Regions from separate parts of the Homo sapiens genome. Here regions 1 and 3 are each linked to region 2. The links come from fine-mapping of genetic effects on gene expression. A gene starts in region 2. Each other region holds a variant in brackets. All regions are shown on one strand. Distances are from middle to middle. Region 1 has its middle 14 kb from the start of FHAD1. Region 2 holds the start of TMEM51 (transmembrane protein 51). Region 3 holds the start of FHAD1 (forkhead associated phosphopeptide binding domain 1).

The links. PIP is the estimated chance that this variant, and not a neighbour inherited with it, causes the effect.
Region 1: its variant is fine-mapped to the expression of TMEM51 in blood mononuclear cells (TOPMed, PIP above 0.99).
Region 3: its variant is fine-mapped to the expression of TMEM51 in whole blood (TOPMed, PIP above 0.99).

Annotation. Positions count from the first base shown.
Region 1 is chr1:15,229,583-15,237,290 of GRCh38, forward strand. It overlaps a transcript of FHAD1 not described here. Among named protein-coding and RNA genes, the nearest start is that of FHAD1, 14 kb to the right of the region's middle. The variant A/G (reference allele first, on the strand shown) is at 3,680.
Region 2 is chr1:15,149,605-15,157,312 of GRCh38, forward strand. TMEM51 (transmembrane protein 51) reads left to right here and starts at 4,143. Exons shown (of 4, transcript NM_001136218.2): 1 at 4,143-4,350. It overlaps TMEM51-AS1 (TMEM51 antisense RNA 1), which reads right to left and starts at 2,860. Exons shown (of 5, transcript NR_027136.1): 1 at 2,687-2,860. RefSeq lists silencers at 3,966-4,235, 4,296-4,345, 4,436-4,615 and enhancers at 4,325-4,986, 4,766-4,855, 4,987-5,648.
Region 3 is chr1:15,242,182-15,249,889 of GRCh38, forward strand. FHAD1 (forkhead associated phosphopeptide binding domain 1) reads left to right here and starts at 5,042. Exons shown (of 34, transcript NM_001391957.1): 1 at 5,042-5,214. RefSeq lists silencers at 4,877-5,050, 5,068-5,307. The variant C/T (reference allele first, on the strand shown) is at 3,908.

The DNA.
Region 1 (7,708 bases), 80 kb after region 2:
AAGGAGAAATCAGTACAAACATTCTAGCTGCTATTTGGAATAAACCTTGATTTTGATGTTTATTTTTCCAGTTAAAAAAGTTTTAATGCCTAAAATTTTTCCAATGGCTGAAAGTAGTAAAAATCATCCACTCATCTTCCCTTAGGCCAATAATAGAAAGGTCTCACGGGGCAATATAGGAACCAGGAATAAGACCAGAGGGGGAGGAGGAGGAGAAGAACACCATTGACTAAGTCCTACGCATATGTTGAAGGCAGACTATCCCTTGCTCCTACTTCCTGGGTAGTAATTTCATAGACGTGTACATTATCATACACCCCTCCAGTGAATAAACACTGAATTAAATGGAATATGATTTTATCTCTGTGTATTGCTTCAACTCTGGGTTTCTGAACCTTGGCACTATTGACATTTTGGGCTGGGTAACCCTGACATGGGGCAAGGCGTGGCTAGGTGGAAGGCTGCTCTGTTCCTTACAGGAAGTTTACAGCATCCCTAGCCTCCACCACTAGATGCCAGAAGCACTGCCCAGGTGTGGCAATCAAAAATGTCCCGAAGCATTGTCAAAAGTCTCCTGGGGGCCTGGGTCAGGGCGCAAAATGCCCGTGGTTAAAAACTGTACAAACTGAAGCTTTAGGTCTACTGGCTACGGGGGGTTGCGGGGAGAATGTAGTATGGAGAAGTGGAAAAAAAGATTGTCATCTGAGCGGCAATTTCCATGTTTGAAAAACGAAATATTGATTATTGCGTTGGGCCACAAGACTGGGAGAATCAAATGAGTTAAATTATATGCTACAAAATGCTATAAAAAGTAGAATTTTAAAGAGAAATGCTTCTAGAGTTCATCTTGCTCAGCTTCCTTGTACAGGAAAGGAAAACCGAGTAAAAAGATGTTTCCCTAAAGACCACAGTAATGCTTCACAAACACAAATGATTATAATGAAATATTAAGTTGTTTCCACCCAGAAAAACAAACAACACAAGAACCAACCCAAATGCCATGATGCTGGCACCATGTGAGCATCAAACCAAATAGTGACTTCAATGGATTGAAACACATCTACATAATTCCAAATCAAATATTCCTGATGATACTTTTAAAAACTCATTGGTCACTTTGGGAAGTTGCTTGTTACTGTGAATATTGATACATAAAGGGAAAGAATCCATCATTTATTCTGCCTTTCCTGAACAAACTGTGTTTTACGGTAAACATATAATTGGCCAGGCGCAGTGACTCACGCCTGTAATCTCAACCCTTTGATAGGCCTAGGCTGGAGGATGCTTGAGCTCAGGAGTTTGAGATCAGTCTGGGCAACATGGAGAAACCGCGTCTCTACAACAAGTTTAAAAATTAGCTGAGTGTAGTGGTGTGTGCCTGTGGTCCCAGCTACTTGGGAGGCTGAGATGGAGGGATCACTTGAGCTCAGGAGGTTGAGGCTGCAGTGAGCCATGATAACACCACTACACTCCAGCCTGGGCAACAGAGTGAGACCCTGTCTCAAAAATAATAATAATAATAATAGTTGATGAAGAAAATGCATTGACAGTTGATGAAGAAGAATTCTAGCAATAATTAACAAAGGAATATCAGAAAGATCACTATTCTGCAACCTCAAAGGAAAGAATGGAGCTAGGGAATGATCCTCAAAGAATGCTAAAACTATTAGGTAAAAAGTTGATGAGGCCGGGCACAGTGGCTCACACCAGCAATCCCAACACTTCGGGAGGACGAGGCAGGAGGATCATTTGAGGTCAGGGGTTCAAGATCAGTCTTGCCAACATGGTGAAACCCCATCTCTACTAAAAATAAAAAAATTAGCCAGGCATAGTGGCACTTGCCTATAGTCCCAGCTACTCAGGAGACTGAGGCAGGAGAATTGCCCGAACCTGGAAGGTGGAGGTTGCAGTGAGCCGAGATCTTGCTACCGCACTCCAGCCTGGGTGACAGAGGGAGACTCCATCTCAAAAAAAGAAAAAAAAAATGTTGATAAGCCCAAGTGTCCACCGATGAATGAATGGACAAACAAAATATAGTCTATGCATACAATGAAATATTATTCAGCCTTAAAACAGATGGAAATTCTGACACATGCTACAACACGATGAACCTTGAGGACATTCTGCAGAGTGAAATAAGCTAGTCACAAACACACATACTGTGTGATGCCACTTATACGAAGTATCTAGAATAGCCAAACTCATAGAAACAGAAAGTACAATGATATTTCTCAGGGCCTGGGAGGAAGGGGAATTACAGAGCTAGTGTTTGGTGGGTACAGAGTTTCAGTTTTGCAAGATGAAAAAGCTCTGGAGGTTGGTTGCACAATGATGTAAATGTACTTAACACTACTGAACTGTACGCTAAAAATGATTCACATGGTAAATTGTATGTTATGTGTATTTTACCACAATTAAAAATAAAAACTGTCTGGGCCTGGTGGTTCATGCCTGTCATCCCAGCAATTTCGCAGGCCAAGGCAGGAGGATCACTTGAAGTCAGGAGTTCAAGACCAGCCCGGCCAACACGGTGAAACCCTGTCTCTACTAAAAGTAAAAAAATTAGCCAGGCATGGTGGTGTGCACCTGTAGTCCCAGCTACTTGGGAGGCTGAGGTGGGAGGATCACTTGAACCCAGGAGGCGGAGGTTGCAGTGAGGCGAGATCTTGCCACTGTACTCCAGCCTGGACATCAGAGCAAAATTCTATCTCAAAAAAAAATTAAACATAAAAATTAAAAGTCACTGGAGAAAAATTTGATGAGAACTTTATGATGGACAGATCAGCCTGTCAGCACTGATCCTACCTAGCCATCTTGGCATCATTAAAAAGGGCCAACCAAGATGTTACATGTCCACGATGTGACACAGGAGGAATCAAACAGCCTGCCTATGAAGTAGTCTTGACAACAAGAAGACCAGATCTCATCAGGCCTCGAGATTTCACTCTTAGTTTGCAGGAAACATGGGGAAGAGAGGAATAAGTTAATTGAAACTATGAAGAAGCAATCAGTCAAATCTATGGTGTGAATATTCTATAGGACGAAACACCCAGTTTCTCCAGCCGATCAGTGGTATGAAAAAGGTAGGGGATGCTGTTATGGAATAAAAAATATTTCAAAGACATAACAACCAAACACAACGTGTGGATGGCGTCTAGATCCCGATGTCAACAAATCATCAATACAACGACATCTCTCAGAGAATCAAGAAAGTGTGAGCATGGATGGATGTTAGACGATATTCAGGAACTGTTACTAGTATTGCTAGTGTGATAATGTCATGGGGAAAATAATGTCATAAAGGTGGGGAAGCTCCTTTTAGTCAGGAAGTATTTATGTATGAAATGACACAATGTGTTTTAAGTTAATCCAAAAGGAAGTTAATCAAAAAGGAAGAAAAAAGCGATAAAACAAGATTGGAGAAGTATCGAAGCTGGATTATGGGTACATGGGGTTAATGGTACTCTTTTCCCTACTTTTGTGTTGTATGTTTCAAAAAACTCCATTATAAACCCCAATTTTTTTCCATAGAGAAGCAATATGTTTATATTAAAAACTATAACTCTCTTCTATAAGACATTTCTAATGCAGACGTGAAGATTAATTTGATTTCTAGCTACTTCTAGCCCCCAAACTACCAGCATTTTTTTTAGTTTCAATTTTTATTTTAGACACAGTG[A/G]GTACATGTGCAGATTTGTACATGGGAATACTGCATGATGCCGAGGTTTGGAGTATGGATCCTGCCACACTGTCAGTGAGCACACCACCTGTTGAGTAGGTTTTTTTCTTTTTTCTTTTTTTTTTTTTTGAGATGGAGTCTCACTCTATCACCCAGGCTGGAGTGCAGTGGTGCAATCTCGGCTCACTGCAACCTCTGCCTACCGGGTTCAAGCAATTCTCCTGCCTCAGCCTCCCGAGTAGCTGTGACTACAGGCGCATGCCACCACGCCTGGCTAATTTTTTTGTGTTTTTAGTGGAGACAGGGTTTCATCGTGTTAGCCAGGATGGTCTCGATCTCCTGATCTCGTGATCTGCCCACCTCAGCCTCCCAAAGTGCTGGGATTACAGGCGTGAGCCACCATACCTGGCCCTGATGGATAGTTTTTTAACCCTCCTGCCCCCACACCCTCTAGGAGTCCACAGGGTCTATTGTCCCTATATATTTATGTCTGTGTGTGCTCAATGGTTAGCTCCCACTTCTAAGTGAGAACATGCCATAGTTTTATTTTCCTGAGTTAATTTGCTTAGGATTATGGCCTCCAGCTCCATCCATGTTGCTGCAAAGGACACAATCTCATTCTTTTTTATGGCTGCATAATATTCCATAATGCATATGTACCACATTTTCCTTATCCAATCTACTGACCACTGATGGGCACCTGGGTTGATTCCATGTCTTTGCTATAGTGAACAGCACAGTAATGAACTGACAAATGCATGTGTCTTTTTGGTAGAATGATTTATTTTCTTTTGAGTATATACTCAGTAATGAGATTGCTGGAGGACACCCAATTTTTTTAAGTAAGTAGTCCCAAAGGAACATACACACACACACACCATAGGCAGAGCTAGCTATAACCAAAGTATAAGCGAATGAGGAAGCCAGGAATTCCTGAGGATAAATACCTCCATCAGTGTGGAGAGTTAACAGGTACAGGAAATAAGAAGTCAGACCTCAGGCCTTTGCAAACTGAGCTAGCAAAATCTACAATGTCCATATTAAGCCAGGACCTTGAAAGGTGCTCTACCTCCTGAGAAAGGGAAGGCTTTAAGTGTATTTTTCTGGACTGCCAGAAAAGGGAGCGCATGGGCTCTGCAGGGTTTCTGGAGGGGAAAATTAACAATGGCCACCATAATAATGACGATTGTTAACCCTGAGGATTCGTAACCACATGGTACTAGGAATTAGTTTAACACTCCGTGCATTCAAGGGGGAAACTCCAAGCTGAAGAAGTAAATGTAAGGGATCACAGGTTGGTAGCAGCCCTGGCATCCAAATGAAACAAACAAAAATCATTCCTAGAGGAACGCAGCCAGAAATCAGACTCCTCAGGACTCCCGCAGATCAATTTCAATCAACACTGAGATCACATTCAAATTATTAACCCTCCAAGAAACAAGTCAGTATGAGCAAGAGTGAGCAGAAAGAACAAACAGTAGATTGAGACACTTCCTCGCACCCCAAGGACATCAGGTGTTGGAATTCCCAGATACTGATTCTACTTTGTATTAAATAGTTTTTAAAAGAAGGATTTAAAAATGAGCAAGGAATGAGATGATCAAAAATGGCCAGGCTCATCATCTGTAATCATGAGAGAAATGCAAATCAAAACCACAACGAGATACCATCTCACAACAGTCAGAATGGCTATTACTAAGAAGTCAAAAAAACAAACAAACAAAAACCAGAAGCTGTAGAGGATGTTGAGAAAAGGGAATGCTTATACACAGTTGGTGGGAATGTAAATTAGTTCCACCACTGTGGAAAGCAGTTTGGAGATTTCTCGAAGAACTTAAAACAGAGTTACCATTTGACCCAGCAATCCCATTGCCAGGATATACCCAAAAAGAAAAAGACCATTTTACCAAAAAGACACATACGCTCCTACGTTCATCGCAGCACTATTCACAATAGCAAAGACATGGAATCAACTTAGGTGCCCATCAATGGTGGATTGGATAAGGAAAATGTGGCACATATACACTACAGAATACTACGTAGCCATAAGAAAGAATGAGATCATGTCCTTTACAGCAACATGGTTGCAGCTAGAGGCCATTATCCTAAGTAAATTAACAAAGGAACAGAAAACCAAATACCGCATATTCTCACTTAGAAGGGGGAGCTAAACATTGAGCCCACATGAGCATAAACATGGGAACACTCAACACTGCAGACTACTTGAGGGGAAAGGAGGTGGGGGAGTGGGTTGAAAAAGTACCTATTTGATACTATACTCACTACCTGGGTGCAATGTGCCCATGTAACAAACCTGCACATTTACCCTCTGTATCTAAAATAAAAGTTGAATTTTTTTTTTTTTTTTTTGAGGCAGAGTCTCACTCTGTCGCTCAGGCTAGAGTGCAGTGGTGTGATCTCAGCTCACTGGAACCTCTGCCTCCCGGGTTCAAGCGATTCTCATGCCTCGGCCTCCAGAGTAGCTGGGATTACAGGCACCCGCCACCACGCCCGATTAATTTCTTTATTTTTAGTAGAGACATTTCACCATGTTGGCCAGGCTGGATTTGAACTCCTGACCTCAAGTGAGCCGCCGGCCTCGGCTTCCCAAAGTGCTGGGATTACAGGCGTGAGCCACTATGCCCAGCTAAAAGTTGAATTTTTTTAACGGCCAGGCATTTGACCTCAGAACTTTGTGGGAACACAGGGAGAACTACTTGACCCCTGTACTTTTAGCACTTCCATTCTGGTAGGATAAACAGATCCACATAATCAAAATACATCAGGGGTAAAAACTCAAGCAGTTATAGAACAGAGAAGGAATAAGAATAAGCGCGGCGGACAAGGAGGACACAGGCTGTACCTGGAGGCGGCAGCCTCTCCACACGCCTCACAGATTGTTGCTCTGTGTGCAGGAACAGAGCCCAAGTATTGCCTGATGTTCCAATTTCCCCAGAAAAGACATAAATCCAAATTGTAAAGTAAGTCAACGTGATTTGTACGTTAGCCACTGCAGGAGACACCTGAAGCTTCTGCCACCCAATATCAATTCACCTTTCTTCTAAAATATTACGGTGTTATGTATGATTCCCCTTTGGGGACCACCCCCTTTCCTGTTCTCAGCCCAGTCTCAGTCTCTTCCTGGTTGAGTTGACTCCATCTCCGGCTGCAGGGATGGGCATGTGACTCAAGCTTGGCCAATCAGAGCACAGCAGTCCCCCGGACCACACTAATTGGCTTAGAAACGGGCCTGTGAGTCAATCAGAGAAAATGAGAAGCCATGAGGCCTTTGGGAGAATCTTAGGAAAAAATTCTCTCTCATCCCCTTGGGATTCAAAGCTGAGAAGATGTAAGGACTGGAGCTGCAGCAGTCTTTCTGGGACCATTATACAGAGATTCTGTCTGAGGTTGGATCCACGTGGTCAAAAGTATTGCTGAGGAGCCAGAGAGAGACTGAGGTCTGATGACATCACTTGAGCCCTGCAGACTTTTCATTTACGGTAACCAGTTAATTTGCTTTCATGCTGAAGCTAGTTTGAACTGGGCTCTGATATGGTTTGGCTGTGTCTGCAACCAAATCTCATCTTGAATTGTAGTTCCCATAATCCACACATGTCGTGGAAGGGACCCAGTGGGAGGTAATTGAGTCATGAGGGCGGTTACCCTCGTGCTGTTCTCTTGACAGTGAGTGAGTTCTTGGAGACGTGATGGTTTTATAAGGGGCTTTCCCCTTTTGCTTGGCACTGCTCCTTGCTGCCGCCATGTTAAGAGGGACGCGTTTGCTTCCCCTTCCACCATGATCGTAAGTTTCCTGAGGCCTCCCTTGCCCTGCAGAACTGTGAGTCAATTAAACCTCTTTCCTTCATAAATTACCCAGTCTCAGGCAGCTCTTTATAGCAGCATAAGCATGGACTAATACAGGCTCTTTATCACTCCACAGAAAGAGGCTGTATCCTCCATCAACTAGTTGAAAGTATTTTAACACACTGTGAAAGCCAAAGAAACATGGAGGCTGACTGTGGCCTTCAG
Region 2 (7,708 bases):
AGGCTGAGGCAGGAAAATTGCTTGAACCGAGAAGTCAGAGGTTGTAGTGCAACCTCTGCACCACTGCACTCCAGCCTAGGTGACAGACACTCTGTCTCAAAAAAATAAAAAATAAAAAAAGTGGTTTGTGTAGTATCATCATATTTAGTGCCTTTCTCGGTGAATGATATAACTTGGACGTTCTTCCATGTCAGATAGCTCTACCTCATTCTTTCTGGTGACTTCATAGTGTGCCAGCATGAGTCTATGCCACAATTTACTTAGCATAGCTCCTAGTGCTGGGCATTGAGGTTGGTGACCACTTTTCACCGTTACAATTAATCAGCAATGAAAACCCTTGGACGTTCTGTTCCTGAGCACATGTGTGAGTTGTTCTGCATGATGATCTATTTCTATAAGCTGATTTTCCAGCCTCACTTTCATTGATGTGCCTGGAAAGTCAGTAGCATGACAGACTGGGGTCTTGGTCACTAACCAGGGACAGTCGAATATTTTAAAACTGTCGTTATTTACCCATTCAGCCAGAAAGAATAAAAATGTAATGCCACGGGAATTCTCAGAACAGCATCCTCTCCTCTTTGAATTCAGGCTTTCAGAACTAGACAGGCTAATGCTCCCACAACTCATGTTCAGGCCACACTGGGTACTTTGTCACATACTAGTTCACCTGATCCCCGAGTTGGTCCTGGAAAATAGGTATTATTAGCATAGAAATGCTAATAATTTTTTTTTGACACATGAGGAAACTGAGGCTCAGAGAGGACAAGACATCTGCCCAGGGTCACACAACTCACAAATAGCAGAGGATTCAGAAACCAAAGACAAAGGTGATGGAATCCTGCCTTCTTTCTAAATCCGTGATGTAGGCTAGATCATGGTGCCTCTTCAGAAGTTTACAGTGGACAGTTAGCCAAAAAAGCAGGTGAAGTGAACATCTGCCTAGGTGACTGAGTTTGCAGGATGTATTAGTTTCCTCCCGCTGCTGTGACAAATTGACCCAAACTTCATGGCTTAGAACAACACAGTGAACTATCTTCTTACAGTTCTGGAGGTCAGATGTCCAAAACGGATCTGCAAATGCCTTCCCACCTTCAAATCATAAGGCAGACCCAAACTTGCCTTTTTGTGGATGCCAAGAGCTCCTTCTGGATGCTCTGGCTGACACTCCATTCCTTTCCTTTTCTAGCTCCTAGAGGCTGCCCACATTCCTTGGCTACTGACCCTTGTCCAGCAACTGTATCATTCTGATCTCTACTTCTATCACCACATCTCCCTCTCTAACTCTGACCCTCCCGCTTCCCTCTTGTAGGAACCCTTTTGACAACATTGGACCCACCAGGAAAATCAAGGATAACCTCCCCGTCCCAACATCTTTAACTTGATCCCATCTGCAAAGTCCCTTTTGCCACGTAAAGTAACCAGTTCTGGGGATCAGGTTGTGAACATCTTTGGGCAGCCATTATTCTGCCTATCACAGAAGGGGGTTCCTAGCTTAGTGATTTAGAGCAAGGGCCCTGCAAAGACCCCAGATTCAAATACTTTGTCACTTGCTAGCAGATCCAGGTACCTAACTTCTCTGAGTCTTAACAGCCTCATCTGAAAAACTAGAATAATAGAATCTTCCTTCTAGGGCTGTTTTGAAAACCAAAGAACACAATGTATGCAGTGCACGTGAAACACAGGGTTCAATAAATGGTAGGGAAGATTCAGAGAAACTAACCATGTAGAGGGAGAGGGCTGTGGAGGAGAGGAGGATAAGGAGAGGCATGCTTCCTTTGGTAGCTTCTTCAGTTTTGCCTGGGCCTCAGCTTTGCCTGAGAATTTCGTCAGTCTCTCCCCAGATCAGCCAGGGTGAGCCTGCTTAAATGGAACACTCTGAAGATGATATCCTGTGATAAACAAGACCTGCCCAGTTGAGTCTGCAGCAGAGTGGGGCGGGTCTGGGATGACCCTGGCATGGAAAAGTACAGCAGCTCTTTGTCTTCAGATTAGGAGCTGGGACAGCTGTTCTGACATGATCACCCCCCGCCCCCACCCCAGGCCTCTCCAAAGTCCATCTTGCAGAGTCAAATGAAAACCAGATTCCTGGTCTTATCTGAGAGCTACGTGACTGTTTCCTGTCACTCCTTTGGAGCCTGGGAAGGTCCCCACATGCATTGTCTAAACTTTGGGATGAATACGCACAGCTCTTAAATGGGAGCATATTATTATAGGTACCTGCCTACACAAAGGGTCCTCCCTATTCACTAAAATCATGGGTTATTATTTAGGGCTTTCATTCATCCAACAAATGTTTATTCCGCATTTGCAGGTGGCCAGGCAAGGTGAACATTCTCTCAGGGTGGAGAGTATGTGCAGACAGGAGGAATTATGCTATGGGAGGGAGAGCAGAAGCTCTGGAGTGGATCATCTTGGGTCTAGATCCTGATACTTCCCAGCTGTGTTTTCACTGGGCAAAATGACCTCACCTCCTTAAGCCTCAGCCTTCTCTTCTATAAAGTGGGCATAACAAATAACCGCCTCCTAGGTTATGAGGATTAAATGAGATGGTTCAGGGGATGTGGGTGGTAACCCCGCCCCTGGTTCATAGCAAGGATGTGAGGAATAGCAGTTGCTGTCATAGACATGGAGACTGTTTCCCCAAATGCCTTCCCACCCCCAAATCATAAGGCAGACCCAAACTTGCCTTTTTGTGGACGCCAAGGTTCTGTCGAGCTGTTAGGGTGCAAGTTAAGAAGCCAGAATGGCGGGCTGAGGGGAGAAATGCCCGCATGTTACAACTCTGCAGGTGTACACACGTGGACACCATATGTACCCATGAATTCCGCCTTTGGAAGTGAACTTGATTGCAGCCTATTTTCGTCTGGAGGCGGTGGATTCCCGGTAGGAGGCGCCTTCAGTCCTCGGCTCGATCCTGTGACGCCAGCCAGCTGCCTATCGGCTTCTCAGTGTTTGAACTTCAAAGGGCTGGACGCTCACCCAAGAAGGGGACCCCGGCCTGACCTCTCTCGGAATTCAAAAAAATCTAAGGCTCAGAGAGGGAATGGGAGCTGGCTCTTCCCTCTGTGTTTAGCATCCACGTTTTTTGGCGGTCTGGCTGAAACCAGCCCACCCTAGTTCGGGCGCCAGAGCAACGCAGTTCCGAGGGCAGATCTCCAAGGGGCGGAGGCAGAGCCGCGGGTGAGAGGCTTCCGCGCCGACTTCGGGTTTGCACTCCCCGGAGCCAGAACTCCGTGGCGGCTCCGGGCCTCCGTGGATCCGAGCAGAGACTGGCTGCCCGCCTGCCACTCGCAGGCTGGGAAAACGCCAGCCGGTGCCTCGCCGGGAAAGTTCTCGGCAAAGCTGGGGATGAGCCCTCAGCAGGGCAGGCTCCCGGTGCAGCGCGCCCCCATCCATTGCCCGCGCGCAAGAACCCGGAATGGGCCCCACCTGGGCCGGGACTCGGGCGTGCGATCCCGAGGGCGCCCTGGGGACCACGCATCGGGTGGGGACCCTGGCCGAGGGCGTGAGCTGACTCAGTTTTTAAAAACTCGCTTCCTCCTTCCCTACTTGTGCCGGTCACTCACCTCGCTGGGAACCAGCCCAGGGCAGAAGGGGGAGAGGGAGGCGGTGGCCTCCCCAGGAAGGAGGAGAGGTGAGTATCCCGCCAGGTAAAGGCGGGGCGGCTGGCGGAGCTGTGCCTCGGCGTCTGCGCCTGGTGTGGGAGGAAAGCGGGTCTCCCAGCTCCACTTAAACCCCTAAAACCTGGGACTTCTAGCTTGAGACATTCCCCGACCACCACCCGTCACACACACGCGCGTGCGCGCACACACGCATGCACACCGATTCTCTGGGCCCTAGGGAGGAGGGGGGATCAGGGCTCTATTTTCTCCCGACCCCCTCTTATCCAACTCGGCTGGCAAGGGTTGGGGAGAACTTAGGCCCAGCCCCCGGCACACGCTCAGCGCGCTCCAGCGGCATACGCTGGGGAGTGGGTGCCCGCCTCGCTCAGCTGCGATCCCTCGCCTCGGGCCCGGGGGTGGTGCCGAGGGCCGGGAGGGAGGGTCGGCCGGTGGGCGGTGCTTCTCCGGGCTGGAGGCCGCTCCTGGCCGGCACCGCCCTCCGCCTCCCGCGGTCCCTCCCTCCCGCACGCCGGCGCTCCCAGGCCGCGCTTCCTGCGTCCCCAACCCGGTCCCTGAGAGGGCAGTGCGCCCTCTCCACCACTGCGTTCCCTCGGCTAAGAATCCCCCGAACCCCAGCCCCGCGATCGCGGCGCCCACCGAGGAGGCCGCCCGGGTGGGGCGCGGGGGTCGCGAAGCCCGCAGTCCCGGACCGCCCAGCCGAGACGGAGCCGGACCCGCCGCCTCCCGGGTGAGTCTCAGCCGCCGCGCCTTGCGCCCGCTGCTTCCCGCGGCGCGCTGTCGGTTCCCCACAGGGCCGTGTAAGGGGGCCGAGGCCCGTTTGGGTCTCCTGTCCGTCCGTCTGTCCGCCGAGCGCTTCCCGCCTGGGGTCGACCACCGGGAGGACTCCGCACCCCGCACCCTCTGCGGCCGCGCCCCGCCGGCGCGGGACGCTCCCGCCTCCCGGGCACCGCGCCTGGCCAGCTGGCCTCGGCTGGGGAAGGCAGCTGGCCTTGGGGGCCCCCTGTTGGCGGGAACAGGTGCTATCCGCCCGGCGGGCTTCGAACCCTTGGCTTCGCCAGAAGCGCTTTCAGCGCGTGGTTAGGAGCAGAACTTCCCAGTAGGTCCCAGGAAACCACCTTGGCGCTTTGCTCGCGCATCCCTTACTGTATGGAAGTCGGGGCCTTTTAGGGATTTAGATTCGTGTGTGTGTATGTGTGTGTGTCGCTCTACAAGCAAACACGGGGGTAAAGAATCGGGCATGAGCAAAGTGGATTGAAACTCGAGTCCTTCCCTGAGCGCGTCGGTTTCTTCATCTGTGAAACTGACATGACAACGTCCCAGGGTGCGGCGGGGCATTCATGCCCAGCACCCAGCAAGCACTCAGCGGTAAGTTACGTTACCGGGCCTAGGGGAGAGCAGAGTACAAATCAGATCTCAAATCAGCGCACAAACGGGAGGCGCTTGGCCCGGCGCGCCTGGTCTGCATTACAGGATAATGGTCTCTTTCCCAACCAGCGGTGGGGGCGAGAGACCTGGCCCCTCCCCCACGGTTTCCCCAGGGAGCAGCCCGTGGGGTGTCCTGCGCAGCGCTCCGAGGTGCCTGTGACGGTGCATGGGACTGCGGGTCCTTCCCAACAGCAGGGGAGGTCTGGCTGCTGGGAACCCGGGCGCTGCCGGAGTGGGGTGGGCGGGGACGAGGTGGGCGGGGCAGGGACCCGAACCGGGAGGTAAGTCAGCGGGTGGAAGGCTTTCCCCTCTAGGACCGGCCGGCTTCTGGCTTTCCTTTTGAATGGGTTACCCGGAGAACAGCTTGTCTAGGGAACTGTTGGCCCTGGGACCGTGAACAGCTTTCACACCCCGGAAACCTGTCACAAGAGGATCCTGACCTATTGGGACAGAGCCCCTGCCCCTCCAAATATCTCACTCCACCAATTGAGAGGTACCCCCAGACTGGGAGAAAAGGCCAAAGAAAGAGAGAGGAGGCTAGTGGTGAACCTGCTCCTCACGGCTTCGGAGCTGACAGCTCTCTGATGGGGTGTCTGGGGCCTGCCCCAGTGACCCAGAGCCCAGAAGCCTCAGGGAGCCCCCAGCCTAGTGAGGGAGTCAGGGATACTCATGAAAAGTGTTGCAGAATTGGCGATACAGTCAGGCCACACCACTTGCTGGCTGTGTGACCTGACCTCTCTGAGCCTCAGCTTCTTCATCTGTAAAATGGGATGATGATCTCCAAGGGCGAGGTGGGGTATTTATGCCTAGCACATGAAGTATTCTATAGTAAGTTATGTCACAGGGCTTAGACGAGAACAGAAGAAAGGAAATAACTCAGGAGGTCCTGCTAAGAAAAGAGTATTAGAATATTCATCAGGGAACTGGAGTCCCCCCAGGGAACAGGGGAGGAAGGGTGTCTGGGCAGATCGAACAGCACAGGCAAAGGCACAGCGACAGGAGAGTGCCTGGGGTGTGCTGGGCTGGGGAAGGTGCTCAGGCAGTGGAGGGTGTGGAAAAGTAAAGGGAATGGAAGGTCCGGAGTGAGCTGGACTGGACAGGTGGGGGCTTTCTTGGAATCATTCAACATATGTTGGCCGAGCACCTTCTGTGGGCCAGGCGCTGTTCTAGGTGCTCAACAAAGATGAACAACATGGAGAAAGACGTCCCTTTCATTCAAGTTCTCTAAGCAGGGAAGTCGTCTGATCCCATCCATATGTTAAGAAGATAATCCTGGCTGCCTGGAAGTTGGCGAGGATCCTAGAGAAGACTCCTAGGAGAGAGAGGCTGGCCTGTGGGTTGGTGGGGGCAGTGGGAATGAATGGGGGAGCTGGAGGAGAGGCCCATACAGGAAGCAGAGAGTAATGTGTGGCCTTCACTCATGACTGTTGGTCAAGGGTAAGATTCTGGGGTTCTACATGAGGCCCAAACTGCCAGCCTGGTCCCCTGCCAGAGAGAAGTAGTGAGTGAGTGTCTGGGGTATTGGCAGGACCCAAGCCCCTCCAGCTGCGACTCTCCGGCTCGCTGGCTCCAGATGTCACGAGGCCTGGGAGTTTCTCTGTCTGCGTGAGGGATGGGAAAGCTGGAGGCAGAGGCCAGCTGGAGCTTCTGGGGCTCCCGTTTTAATAGGTTGTGTTTCTGGTCAACGTTCCTCCCTCCCTCTGCAGGCCTGGCTGTAAACCCCTCAGGCTTCTTGGGCTGGAAGAGGCCAGAGTGTGAGGAGCTTTAGTGTGGATTCTCTTCCCCCAGCCCCAAATTAAGGTGGGAGTCATGCAAAAGAGAAGCATTGTCTCCCTCGGTGCTGGGAAAGTTTCAGAAGCTCAGGTGTCTTCTGACTTGGGATGTGGTATGGGGGCTGCTGACTTTTGCTTTCACTTTTGTTTCTGCTCTGAAGCTGGGAGGAATCCTCCTCTTGCAGCGAAAGCTGTGAGAATATCCTTCTCCATGCTTCAAGTCTCCCTTTGCTTGGAGGGAAAAGGAAGGTCCTAGAATGTCTCAGGTGGAGGGGACCTTCAGGTCATCAGAGACATCATTCTCATTTGACAAACAAAACTCAGAGAGGGGATGGGACTTACCCAAGGACACACAACAGTTCAGCAGCAGAACTGGGACTGGAACCCAGCCCTCCTGACTCCCTTCTAGGGCCCTTTACTTTAACCCAGGAGACCTGGCCACATTCGGGACCAAGACTGTTTTGGGCCCCAGGTTTCTCAACCTCTCAGTCTTTCAAGCGGCTTCATAGAGTTGAGCTCCTCCCCAGCCTGGACAGGTGGTGCAGCCTCCCCTGCCAATGTTTTATTCTCCCTTCCTCTGGATTGAGCCCTCGCTGCCATGGCCACCCCTCCTGGGAGCTCTTGCTCCTGAGAAAGAAAACAGGCCGTTTGTTTGGAAGAAACAAGCCACCTGTTTGGTTTCCCAATACCAGGCCACACAGCCCTGTCCCTCCCAGACAGCCCCAAGATGCTGACCAGAGATAGCCCTCTGAGGGTCTCTGCTGAGCTCCCCTGACCCTCGACTCCTCCCCTCAGCTCCCGTCTCAAGACTGCTGGTTGGTCCTCACCTTCTGTCTGTGGTGTTTACTTGGGCGGAGCAACCTAAAGTCTCCACATTCTCTCTTGCCC
Region 3 (7,708 bases), 93 kb after region 2:
GAGATCGCACCACTGCACTCCAGCCTGGGCAACAGAGCAAGACTCCATCTAAAAAAAAAAAAAAAAAAAAAAGTTTACAAAAAGTACAGCACTTTGTAATCTGGCAGCCAGAGTTTGAATTCCAGAACCACCATGTGCAAGATTTGTAACTGGTTAAGTTACTTGACTTTTCTGTGCCTCAATTTCTCTTTCTGTATAATGAGTTGGGCTAAGAACTAAATAAAACTGTGCATGACATGGTGGTTGGTACCTTGTTAGCTTTAATAAATATGAGCTGAATTTGTTAACCACATTCATAAAGGTTCACTGTCACTCAAAAAAATATAGTGAAGGTTTGCCCACATGCCTGGAAGTAGAATTTATGGAGTTGTCCAGCAGGTGCCACCCCATAGAGACTGCTGGGTTCCCAAGAATCACCTCTAGTTGTGACTAGAGGAAGGAGCACATCCTATCTCTTATATCCATATCCACATATAGAAAGGTCTCAGAGCAGCCGGCCAGATAATATGAGACTAGTCATCCAGAGATCAGGTTTGTTCTGGAGTAGGACTGAGTCTTGATGCAAATCAAAGTTTCTCCAGAGTGTTTGTGACCTGGGTTGAGATTGGGGCTCTCTTCGCACAGCATCAGAGAAAAAGAAAACAGGCAATAATCGTAAACACTCATAGAGCCATTCAGTTGTACCAGCCACTGATCCATTGTTTCATACGTCTTAACCCATTTAATCCTTTCAATAAAATGGATTGTTGTATACCCATTTTACAGGTGAGGGAAGTGAGGCACAAACAAAATACAACAAAAACCAGGCCCAGGACAGGTGGGGCCAGCACACTTTGCAGTTTTTGAACGGATGGTACAGACAGACCCCCCCACAGCAAAGCGCAAGGAACCAAGGGGAACTGACTTTGAAAAATGATTTGCAAGATAACTGAATGCTCCAAACCAGCATGAAAGAGTCGACATGAGACGAAGCTCCATATTTTCTCATTTTCTGCCACGGGAAAAGGCAAGGATGGCTGCAGAAAGCCTCAGTTGCCAGTTATTCTCTCCATGGTTTGAAATTATTTTCATGAGTCTCTGTGTGTAGGTCTGTATATAAAAATCTGTACTTTCTAAGCTTATATGGTCAGGTTACTAATGGGCCGTGGAGTCTCTAGTGGGCCCTCTGCTCTCTGTCATCCGTCACCCTGCGCAACAGCTTGGCTATTTCCTGCACTCTTTACTCTCTTGTTCTTGCTCTTTCTCTGGCTCTCTTTCATGCCATAGAGGCTGAGGAAGCCTCCACACCTCTCCTGGCCGCGGCTGGGGCCTGAAGCCAGCATTCATTTCATGTTGGAATGCAAGGGCAGCAGGAGAAACATCACACAGTTCTCTGAGGATGGAGCACAGGGTTAGGCTCTCCCCAGGCAAGAACAGCCCAGAGAAGGTGGCTGGGAAGGAATGAGATTTTACGGGGGCAGAAGTTCTGCAGGAACGAAGCCTAGTGCCCAATGTCAGCAGGTAATGTGGGTGGCAGGCCTAAGCTGCCTCCTCTGGGCTTATGCCCCCTTCACTCCCTGCCCTGGGCACTGCCTGAACCTTTGGACAGACAAGAGTGCAGGCTGCTCAGAAGTGAGAGAAAGCAGTTGTGAGTAAGTGGCATCTTGTGATTGTGACAGCTGTCACCTGTAGTTCCCCAGGGGAAATACCTTCCTTGTCACATTCATCTCGATTCAAATCCTGCCAGATTTTCTAGCTGTGTGACTTTAGGCAGATTTCTCCCTGTCTCTGAGCCTTATTTCCTACAATATGGGCTTCGTCGTCACCAAGAGTTCAATAAAAGGTTAACTGTAGGCACTGCCAAGAAGCACAAGTAATCTAGAAACATCTATTTTTTTTTTTCAGGGACAGTATTTTTAATGCCGCATCACTGTTTAATTGCAATGTACAACTCTCTTACTCAGCCCAGGAAATTATATCATAAAACCCTAAGTTATTGGGTATTTGATTTTCTGTTTTTGAAATGAAAATGGATGATACGGAATTGGGTTTCAAGAACTTTGCACACCCTTGAGATAACAGTGGCATCCTGAGGGACAGAGGATCCAATTAAGATTTGGCAACTTCGGCTCCACTGATTCTGAGTGTCAGCTTTGCTCTCAGTTTAGGATTTTTTGTTTTTCATTGAGATATCAGCTAACAGCAACAGATGATCTCTCAAAGCCTGGTGAGGGGCATGGGCTGTTCCAGCTCATGGCCAGCCTGGGTTTCACTGGGGTCTGTCTGATAGCAAGTTTGTGTCCTGGGTTCATGTTAATGACAAGAGTTTGACCAAAGACAAGCATGGAGGGGTGGTGGTAGGGATGGAGGTGGTGTTCAGGCCTGGGCAGGGGACTAGAGAAGCCGACATCCTGGGGCGAGGACAGGTCAGCCCAGCAGTCCTCAGAGGACAGGAGGCCGGGCTTCAGAAGGGTGGCAGGGGCTTCCCCCTGCATATTTATTCATTCAGACATTGTTCTAGGGACTGGTGGCACAGCAGCAAACAAAACATGAAAAAAGAAATTCCTGCTTTCATGGAGTTTAGATTCTACCAGGGGTCAGGGAGGGAGACACAATAAATAACATAAATAAATAAAGAAATAGTATGTGAGTTGATGATAAGTGATGTATTAGTCCATTTGTGTTGCTATCAAGTAATACCTGAGGCTGTGTCATTTATCCAGAAAAGAGGTTTATTTGGCTCACAGTTCTGCAGGTTGTACAAGAAGCATGGTGCCAGCATCTGCCTCTGGTGAGGGTCTCAGGCTGCTTCCACTCCTGGCAGAAAGTAGCGCCTGCATGTGCAGAGATCACATGATGAGAGAGGAAGTGAGAGTGAGCGAGGGGGAGGTGCCAGGCTCTTTCTAACAATCAGCTCTTTAGGAAACTGATAGAGTGAGAACTCATGCACCCTACAGGAACAGCACCAAGCCATCCATGAGGGATTCGCCCGCATGATCCAAGCACCTCCCGCCAGGCCCCACCTCCAACACTGAGGAGCAAATTTCAACATGAGATTTGGAGGGGTCAAATATTCTAACTATAGCAAGTGGCAAAAAGAAGGGAAGAGGGATAGAGTGTTGAGGTTTTTATTTTGTTTGGATGTGCTTTTGTTGTTCTTATTTTTATTTGCTTTTGTTGTTCTTATTTTTATTTGCTTTTGCTGTTCTTATTGTTTTTATTTGCTCTTTTTTGTTGTTTATTAGATTTCATGGTGGTTGTTTCATTGTTTCAAAAAACCAATTTTAGAAAAGATGATATGTGAGTAAAAAGCTAAAGTAAAGAAGGCAAAGGAGACTCTTGAGGGGAAGTGCATTCCAGGCAGAGGAATGGGCAAGAGCAAAGGCTCTGAGGCAGAAACGTGTGGGAAGCTGAGCTTGACCCTCTCTGTTCCTGTGAAGCCATCACTTGGGTCCCAGCCCTTGTGGTCCCTCCTAACATTTTACGCCTAGAATCTTTCTGGTTGTAGGAAACTGATCCAGGCAGAACCTTCCAGACTGAGGGCCTGGAAGAGATTTGTAGGGACAGGCTCCGGGAGAGGTCTCTGCAGTTCAGCTGCATAAATCAGGGTTTTGTCAAGCTTGTTGCAAATGCACATTCCTGGATTATGTCCCAGGCCTGCTAAATCAGAATCTCTGGGGTCTGTGCCCAGAAGTCCGCATTTCTAAAAGCCTCCAGGCACGTTTGAGCATCTTCACTGTATATTCCACCACAAATCGATGTCCATGATTTCTCTCTCAGATCCTCTTCCTATTGACTAGGTGTATTAGTCTGTTCTCACACTGCTATAAAGTAATTCCTTGAGACTGAATAATTTACAAAGAAAAGAAGTTTAATTGACTCACAGTTCTGCACTGCTAGGGAGGCCTCAGGAAACTTACAGTTATGG[C/T]GGAAGGCCAAGGGGAAGCAAGGAAGCTAGCATGTTGTAACATGGTGTAGCAGGAGAGAGAGAGAGCAAAGGGGGAAGTGCCACACTTTTAAACCATCAGATCTCATGAGAACTCACTCGCTATCATGAGAAAAGCAAGCGGGAAGTCTGCCCCCATGATTCAATCACCTCCCACCAGGCCCCTCTTCCAACACGTGGGGAGTGCAATTCGAGATGAAATTTGGGTGGGGACACACAGCCAAACCGTATCACTAGGGTAGAATGTGCCATAGTTCATCTCTCTTAGAAAAACGTTTAGAGTTTTTCTTGAGGTGTCTGGTCAGCCATTTCCTGCCAGTGAAAGGAATCACTCTCCAGGTAGAGTCAGCAGGAGATAGGATTTCCTGCTGGAGATAGTGGCGGGAGATAGGATTTGCACATCTGCTCAACACACTCCATCCCGCGAGTCCTGTGCCGGCTGACAAGCGGTTTCTTAAGGACAGTAACTGTTCCAGGTGTATTCTGGGATCAGCGTGTGACACTCATAGGACTCAAAAGATGTTTGCAGAGATAGAGAAAGGGCAAAAGAATGAATAAATGTCACTCTTAACAGGGAGGAGCAGAGGCAGCAGGATTGTGAGTTTGGAAATATTTTTTCCCCAGCACATGGAAGAAATCCTCATTCTTTCAAAATTTTTCATTCCACCCCATCCCTTTCCCAATCCCCACCCCACTCCCAGAGATCCCCTCTTCTTACTCTTTCTATTTTCTGGCCTGTAACGGAAAGGACTAGAGATTTGGGTAGGGCAGGGGGCATACTAACCTCCAAGGGTCTCATGAGTTCAGCTCCATCAATCTCCTACCTCTCCCTATCGCCCCCGACCCTCCCTCAACGCATCCAGCTTACAGTGAGGGGTAATGGAAAGGATTCTTGAATCAAATCTCCTCCCTGCTCCTTCCTCGCTGTAAAACCTTGGGCCATTTCTGTGACCTCTGAGCCTCCGCTTTCCTATCTGTGAAATGGGGCAGGCTCGTGGGGCCTGGAGCATTCAGCAGGCGGTAACCCAGTGGGCGTTCCCTGCACGGTGCCACGCCCCCTCTGCCGCGCAGGCCACGCCCTCATCTATTAGGCTGGACCCCGCGGCGCCTGGCGGCGTTGCCATGGCAACGCGCGTACACAGGCCGGCCGGGCGGGCGGGGTGCCGGGTGCGAGCTGGAGACTCCGCGGGAGCGCGGCCGGGAGGCTTCGCCCCGGAGCTGGCCCGACGCCTCCCGAGCTGGCAGGGCTCTCGGCGGAGGTCGGAGCGTGGGCTTCCTCCTCCCGCCAGGTGAGTGCGGCGCGGGAAGGGGTGGCGGGCCGAGACCGGGGACCGGAAGGGGCGGCCCAGCGAGGACTAGCCCTGGCAGGAGGAGGGGTGGCTCCCCGGCCCCATCCTCCTGGATCCAGGCTCCGGTCCCCAGGAGCACCCCAGTAGCTACCCCAACACCAGCCCCTCCTTTCCAGATGCAGGCCCCACCCCGCCCGCGGAGGAAGCCCCCGGGAGCCTTAGACCCTCCTTGGCACCAGCCATGCCACTCTGGGAAGTCCTGGGGGTTACAGCTGGGATTAGGAGGGGCATCCCTGCTGCCCCTGACTTACGAACGACACCCACCCGGCGGTCAGAGAGACTCCCCCCTTGCCTAACCTCTCCCTTCCCAAATACAACACTGAGGAATTTCTAGGGCTCCCAGGCCACTTAAGATCTGGTAACCCCTCAACAGAAATTTTGCTTCTCTATCTCACTTGTGACCTATAAGCAGGGAGTGCAGATGCCTGAAGCTCTTTTGCTCTTTTGCATGGTCGGTGCCCTGTGTCTTAGAACTAATTTACAGAGTTTAACGCATCTAATCACTTTCTACAGTGTTTTCAGGTAGGAAAGTGACTGCACAGGGCAAGATTAAAGTGGGGAAATAGGGCCCAACCCATTCAGCTAAAGAAATAGACTTTTTTTTTTTTTTCCAGAATGTCATCTAGGATAAATACTGAAGGGGAAAATGAAAGGTAGTTACTGTCAGAGGTTCTTAGGCTACCCTGACTTACTTTTAAGCATTGTTTTGTACTTTCATTCATTCATGATTTACTGAGCACCACTATGTGTCAGGCATGGCAGCGCTGGGGGCCAGAGGGGAGTAATGAACAGACTGTGAGGAAATGCAAAGGGTCTGAGATTTTTACACTACTTGCAAGCTAAGTTAGCCTGCCACTGCTTAATGATGCTAGCAGAAGACCAGAGACTCCAGGACCAGAGACAAAGGATGTTATTACTCACAGCACAGCAGGCACTGTGAGCTCATGTTTGCGTTGGTTCCCCTTGCCCTGCAAGTACCCCGGGGTGATGCAGGACAGCTCAGGTGGATGCTGTGCACACTGCGAGTCTGTTTCCCAGCTAAGGAACCCCAAGCTCAGGAAACTCCAGTCTTTTAAAAGGGGCTGCTAGCCAGTGCCCAACCTTTGCCCTGGAAGGAGATGACCTTTTTTTTTTTTTTTTAATTGAGACAGAGTCTTGCTCTGTCTCCCAAGCTAGATAGAGTGCAGTGGCACAATCTCAGCTCACTGCAACCTCTGCTGCACGGTTTCAAGTGATTCTCCTGCCTCAGACTTCCGATTAGCTGGGACTACAGGTGCAAGCCACCATGCCCGGCTAATTTTTTTGTGTTTTTAGTAGAGACAGGGTTTCGCCATGTTGGCCAGGCTGGTCTCAAACTCCTGACCTCAGGTGATCCGTCCACCTGGGCCTCCCAAAGTGCTAGGATTACAGGCATGAGCCACCGTGCCCAGCCAGAGATGACATTTTTATCATAAATCTGCACTCTGCCCTGGATAGGGACACTATCCCTATCCTCTCAGGATATTTGCCCTACAGATGTCCTTGGAAGATTGTCTGGAACAAAATCTGTCAGTGTCTTTGCTCTGAAGATGGGTACAAACACAGGAAACCCATGGAGAATTGAGTTTAACAAAAACAACACAGTTTGGGCTCTCTTGGAACGTATCTCAGTGAAAGGGAAACAGTAAACAGCTAAGTAAAGAACAAGAAAATGACAGAGAATGATAAGCTCAAGGAAGGAGCCACAGCAGTGACACATGCTAGCTAGACAACAAAGTGACTGGTGACGCCTTTAGCTGGGGTGGTCAGGTAGCTACCGCAAGGCACCAGCTGTGGAAACATCGGGGGGAAGAGCTAAAAAAAAAAAAAAAGCCAGTCATTCAGATTTGGGGTTTTACTCTGGAGGCATTTCCTGTGGCTTTCCCACAAAAGAGACATTTCTCGAAAGTTGACTTTAGATTACTTTTACTTTAGTTTGGATGTGGTGCTTGATGATGTAGTCCTCTGCAATTGAAGATTAATAACTCAGGCAATTTGAGGGCAACAGGGCATGGTTCTTTTGGAAAAAGAAGTGTCTTTTTATCCCTATTAAAGACAGCAGACTTAAAAATAAAATTCTCATTATATGAAAGTATTAATATTTCTGAGGATTTCTCATAGGCTTCGGAATTTACAAACATAAACTATCTGGCTTGTTTTTATTTCTCTTACTCCCAAGGGTCTTTTCTTTTTTTGCAGAGGATAGAATTCTGGTGTTAAGGGCTATCTGTTATTTCATGTCCTAAGTGTCAACAAAACAGTGACAACCCCACTATCCCAAGTGACAACCTCTCCCTCCCCCCACTCAGTCACTCTCTCTGCTCCCCCATCCCATCCCCTCCCCACCCAGCAGTGATGGAGGTGTGAAAAGTTGAGCTGCCTGAGGATTATGTAGTGGTGACATGCAATGGCAATC